Regions from separate parts of the Homo sapiens genome. Here region 1 is linked to region 2. The links come from fine-mapping of genetic effects on gene expression. A gene starts in region 2. The other region holds a variant in brackets. All regions are shown on one strand. Distances are from middle to middle.

The links. PIP is the estimated chance that this variant, and not a neighbour inherited with it, causes the effect.
Region 1: its variant is the best candidate, but not a certain one, in a credible set for the expression of SH3BGRL2 in prefrontal cortex (BrainSeq, PIP 0.53).

What each region holds. Positions count from the first base shown.
Region 1 is chr6:79,692,934-79,695,845 of GRCh38, reverse strand. All of the region lies in intron 2 of SH3BGRL2 (SH3 domain binding glutamate rich protein like 2), which reads right to left. Among named protein-coding and RNA genes, the nearest start is that of SH3BGRL2, 63 kb to the right of the region's middle. The variant C/T (reference allele first, on the strand shown) is at 1,582.
Region 2 is chr6:79,629,964-79,632,875 of GRCh38, reverse strand. It overlaps SH3BGRL2 (SH3 domain binding glutamate rich protein like 2), which reads right to left and starts at 1,547. Exons shown (of 4, transcript NM_031469.4): 1 at 1,370-1,547. The coding sequence starts at 1,414.

The sequences.
Region 1 (2,912 bases), 63 kb before region 2:
AACTGTTTCTTTTCAAAAGTTTGCATTTATCATATGTAAAGCAGTCTTAAAATTTGGTAATTTGATAACTTTATCCTAAGGATAAATAATGTAAGCAAATGATGATCACAATCATTTTAGGCATTTGCTTTGTGCTAAGTGTCTTATAAATGTTATGTTATTAAATCTTCACCACAGCCTGCCGGGTTAGAGACTGGCTCAAGGCAAAGAAATATGTTGTTCAAGTTTGACAGCTAATAAGTGAGAGAACTGATATTTGGGCTCATGTTTCACTGACCTTGAAATTCACACTTTCTGTACTCTAGGGTGCATCCTGCCCAAAAGGAAACCAAGTATGGGGCACCACGTGTGCTGGAGTCACTGAGCGCTAATGAATCCATTGTTAAGCCAAGCCAACGGCATCTAGACTTGTAGAGATTCGCTTCCTGCAACGCATGCCTTGTCTGATTAAAAAATCTTTGAATTATTTGGTTCTGTGTACAGATCCTCTTCTCCAAAAGCTTTAGCAATTGAGTCTCGTGGTTTGGAAGGCAGTAGCCTCAGGTTTTTCACAGGCTGCTCCTTCTGTCATTTAGGATCAGCTCTAAAGAAAGGCCTTCCTTGACCAAGCCAAGAAGGAGCAACATGTCTGAAAAGAGCGATTTGGCCAAGTCTTCTTTGAAAACTGGCATTTAAGCTTACATCTGAAGGATGAATAGAGTTAGCCAAGTGAAGGACTGGGATGGGAGCATTCTTGGGCAGGGAGCAGCACTAGTGAAGTGTGAAGCTGGCAGGGTGGACAGGGATAAACATATGCTGGGCTTTGTAAACCAAGAAAATGATCTTGAATTTTATCTTAAGTACCAAAAGAAATCATATAAGGGTTTTGAGCAAGGGAGCAAAATGATCTAGTTTCTTTTAAGAAAATACCTAAATAACTGTGCGGAGAATGGCTCAAAAAAAGGGCAGCAAAAAGGAAAGGAGGGGAAAAAGGGGAGTACTTTGGCAATTGCAGTAAGCAATGGTGGCAGCCGAGCTGACGGCAGAGGGCAGCAGACAGGCTGCAGATACATTTTGGGGGTAGAAGTGATCATACTTGGTTGTGGATTTGATGGGGGTGATTAGGGAGAAATAAGAATTAAAGTGGCTCTGAACTTTCTGGCTTGATGAAAAAGACGAGAAAAAACAATCTGAAGGGAAGGTTGGAGTTCAATTTCAACATGTAATATCTGAGAAACTATATGAAACATTGAGTAAAGAAGATATCAGCTGAGCAACTGGAGGTTCCTAATGGCTCTAGGATGTAGAGATTTCATGGAATTTGTACGAAAATTTGTAATTTCTTGTAAGACAAAATATGATCCTAACTATGCCACAAAAACAGGTCAAAGTTTGACATGAAATACAGGCAAAATCTCATGGACTGAAAATGTTACATTCTTTGTAATGAAGCTATTTCCAAAGAGTTGAGTAATAATTCCCTCATGAGAGTTCAATAAATAATTCTGTTCAAAACATACTTTCTCTGCCTGACAATTTGTTGACTATACTGAACGTGGTAAGAGGAGGAAGAGGGCTAAATTACAGCTAGATTTGTTCCAT[C/T]CTTTAAGATATCAACTGTATGTAACTTAGTATACCTGTTCTCTCTATACCATATTCAGCCTCTACTCAGTCGAAGGTCTTTCCCTGGGGAAGCTCATTCACAGCCATGGCCCTAATTAAAATCACAATCTCTTGCCCTGACCTCTCTTCTGAGCTCTGGTTCCATAAAAGTCACTAACTGTTCACAGACTCTTAAACACAACAGGTCTTAACGACAATTCATGATCTTCCACTCCACAAACTAGACGTCTCAGAAAATGGCACCACTATTTACTGGGCCCTGTAACTCCAAAATCAACACATCACAGGACTCCTTTCTTCCCTCAACCACTAGTTTATATATCCCTTAAGCCTCTCAATTTTTCCACGTTGGTCTCTACCAACCTGATCTAAGCTAGACTTCTGCAACAGCACCCCAACTTATCAACCTTTGTCTAATCTCACTATTTCTACCCCATCATTCTCTCAAAGTGAAGACAGACTGATGTTTATAAAAACAGATTTGATAAACCGAATCCAGCAGTATATCAAAAAGCTTATCCACTATGATCAAGCGGGCTTCATCCCTGGGATGCATGGCTGGTTCAATATATGCAAATCAATAAATGTAATCCAGCATATAAACAGAACCAAAGACAAAAACCACATGATTATCTCAATAGATGCAGAAAAGGCCTTTGACAAAATTCAACAACGCTTCATGCTAAAAACTCTCAATAAATTAGGTATTGATGGGACGTATCTCAAAATAATAAGAGCTATCTATGACAAACCCACAGCCAATATCATACTGAATGGGCAAAAACTGGAAGCATTCCCTTTGAAAACTGGCACAAGACAGGGATGCCCTCTCTCACCACTCCTATTTAACATAGTGTTGGAAGTCCTGGCCAGGGCAATCAGGCAGGAGAAAGAAATAAAGGGTATTCAATTAGGAAAAGAGGAAGTCAAATTGTCCCTGTTTGCAGATGACATGATTGTATATCTAGAAAACCCCATTGTCTCAGCCCAAAATCTCCTTCAGCTGATAAGCAACTTCAGCAAAGTCTCAGGATACAAAACCAACGTACAAAAATCACAAGCATTCCTATACGCCAATAATAGACAAACAGAGAGCCAAATCATGAGTGAACTCCCATTCACAATTGCTTCAAAGAGAATAAAGTACCTAGGAATCCAACTTACAAGGGATGTGAAGGACCTCTTCAAGGAGAACTACAAACCACTGCTCAATGAAATAAAGGAGGATACAAACAAATGGAAGAACATTCCATGCTCATGGGTAGGAAGAATCAATATCGTGAAAATGGCCATACTACCCAAGGTAATTT
Region 2 (2,912 bases):
TAGTAAGGAGTGCATTTGAACAAATCTACCCTTGAAACAGTGCCAGTTTGCAAACACATGAAGTGTGGCTTCAGTGGGGAAATCTACAAAAGGCAGGCATGACTAAGCAACCCAAATAGCTAGAAACACCAGAAACTGTCAGAAGTCTGAGGACCCCAACATGACTGCACATAAGTGTAAGTTGGATTTTCCCATCTATTGTTTCTAGTGCAAATGGGGGTGGAGGGGCTTTGTATGATCGTGTTGGTTTCTTTTTAAATAAAAAACTTCAGTGGTGTACAAGGATTTTCAAACAATATTTTATTCCATCCTCCACTCCACCCACTTAAGAAACAAATTTTGGAACAATCTGACTGAGCTACTGGGCAGACAATTGACCAGACCAAATTTAAGCAATCTACAATGCACTTTTTGATGTTACTTGATTATATATGTCACAAAGGAGGCTCTTAAATCTATAGCTGAACTCTTGGTTAAGGAAACCAAGTCTCAATAATCATGTAAAACACATGTGCTATGTCCCTTAGTGGGCTGTCAAATATACTAACTACTGAATTTTCCTTAAATTCTGACATCTCTAGCTATTTAACTTTCCTTTCTTTAAAAAAATTTTTTTTCTCTAAAAAAATTCAAGAACATCCACCAAAGAGAATAGCTAAAAATAATTAAATAGAAAACCACAATTCATAGATCCCCAGGATAAAATTTCCACAGCATTACAGGTGGAAAGAAAATGCGTGCATACACACACATTTACATAAAGATGTAAAAATATTTATGGCACCCTAAGAAAAAAAATGACAGTGAAAGCAAACAATCCTACCACAACAGGACAAACCTAGTTTTACTATTCTCTTTGCGCAGGTATAAAACTAAACAAATGCACTTGCTGGCGGGGAAGGGAGGACAGAGAGCAATTCCCACTTAAACTTGCTTCATTCAGGAGCTAGGGTAACAAACCAAAGCAGCAGAAAAGGCTCCCGTGCAAAACATAACCAGTCTGAAGGTCCCAAATCGGGAAGAACTAAACTAGGGGAAGGGGGATCCCCGAAGCTCTTGAACAACCCGTTCCCCAAATTTCCATGCCACACAACAGGAGCTGGGGGCTTCCCTCGGACTCCATTTTCAGGCCGCGTTGTCTGCCTTTCAGGCCACGCAGGGTGGGCATTTGGGTGAGGCCGGGGTCCCCCACCCACCTTTCCTCCCCGCCCTCTTCATTGTTGTCGGAGTGTGATGGATCACCTGCCGGGCGCGGGCTCCCGCGGGCGGACCGGCTGAGCGCAAGGACGCGCAGTGACGAGCGCCGCGCGCCTCCCGCAGGACCCGCGCCCCGCGACCCCAACCTACTGCCCGCCCCCACCGCGCTCACCGCCACGAAGCCCGAGGAAGAGGCGATGAACACGCGGATGACCATCCTCTCGCTGCGCCCGGGACAGACCCCTTGCCCCCCGGGCTCCGGGCTGGCGTGGACGCAGAGCTGAACCCAGCTACGAGCCGCCGGCAGCCTCTGGGTAAAGCGCTGCCGTCGGGGAAGATCGCTGGGATCTGGCTCCCTCCCGGCGGGTCCGCAGATAAAAGCCCAGCGCCGCCCGGCCGCAGGCTGAAGGGGAAGGAGAGGGAGGAGGAGGGAGCCGGCTGCGGGGCTTGATGGGATTTGTAGTTTCCGTCTCTCCCTGGAGTGGCTGGTGGACTGAGCTCCCCTCCTGACCGCGCTTCTATCCCGAACACGCGCAGGTGGCTGGAGGGGAGCCACAGCCCGGGCAGAAGCTGTGAGGTGGGTTGGCAAGGATCCTGGCTTGATGAGGAAAAAGCAAACTAGGCAAAAGGGCTCGGTTCAAAGTCCAAGCTTGGGTTCTGTATTGTGGTTTATTGGTTTGGAGCATCCACACCCAGAAATGCCAACAGACACGATCGTGCTGCGGGCACACATCGTCTCAGGGCCGCTGGCGTACCGGGCAAACCCCAGCTACCTGAAGCAGGCGGGATCGGCGAGCCGGGTGCTTGGGAGGTGTGGGCGGTGGGGTTGGGCTCGTTTGTTTGTCCAGTAGCACTGGAGATTGCAGAAAGGTGATTCTTTTGGGTAAATGAGAGGTCTTCTCTTGTCTGTACACACTGAAAATTAGAAACCCAGATGGAAGCACAACCAATATTTTATTTTTCTCAGCAAAACTGTAATTGTAGTAGAAAAAAATAAATACCAAACGAAATTGGAATCCTTCTATCAACATTGGAAATCAGGACCCTACCTGCCCCACCCCTCCCTACACAATGGCTTCGCCTCTGTGCACCTAATATTTACAGTTCAGCCAAATCTGTGCCTTTTTCAGAACCGCTGCACATTCCAGCGCAGTTTCCCAGGAGGATGCTGTTAAATAAAAAGCTTCTATATAGTTGCTAATAGTTTAGGAATAGTTTTTTATCAAGTGCTTTCTGTTTGACAAAAGCTCAAGCCTCTCTCTCAGTTTTGTCGAAAGGAACCAGTTTTCCCTGCTGTACTGTATTTACTTTTTTCCTTTCAACACGGGAGTTTAGCAGAGGTCTGGGAACAATGTTAATTAAGAAAAAGTAAGAAATTAGATGATGAGGTCTCTGGCTCTTTGATACATTTCTTGCACAAAGAGCAATCATTATGAAGTATTTTTTAGAACAGTTATGAATATTTCAAATTTATAACCTTTCCTATTGCTTTTCTTAAAGCCATTTCTGTAGTAGGAATCTTTTTAAATTTCCTTCAATAATAGAAGAGACACTCCTAATGGGACTTTATTTCTTCTTCGTGTTTAAAATTTTAAATAGAAGTTTTGCTGTCTTTAGTATCTCTCGGCAAATGTACTTTAATTTTGCTACCATAAATGTGGAAATGCACGTTTATAAAATAGAAAATAATTTTCTTAAAAGTAGATACCGTATTT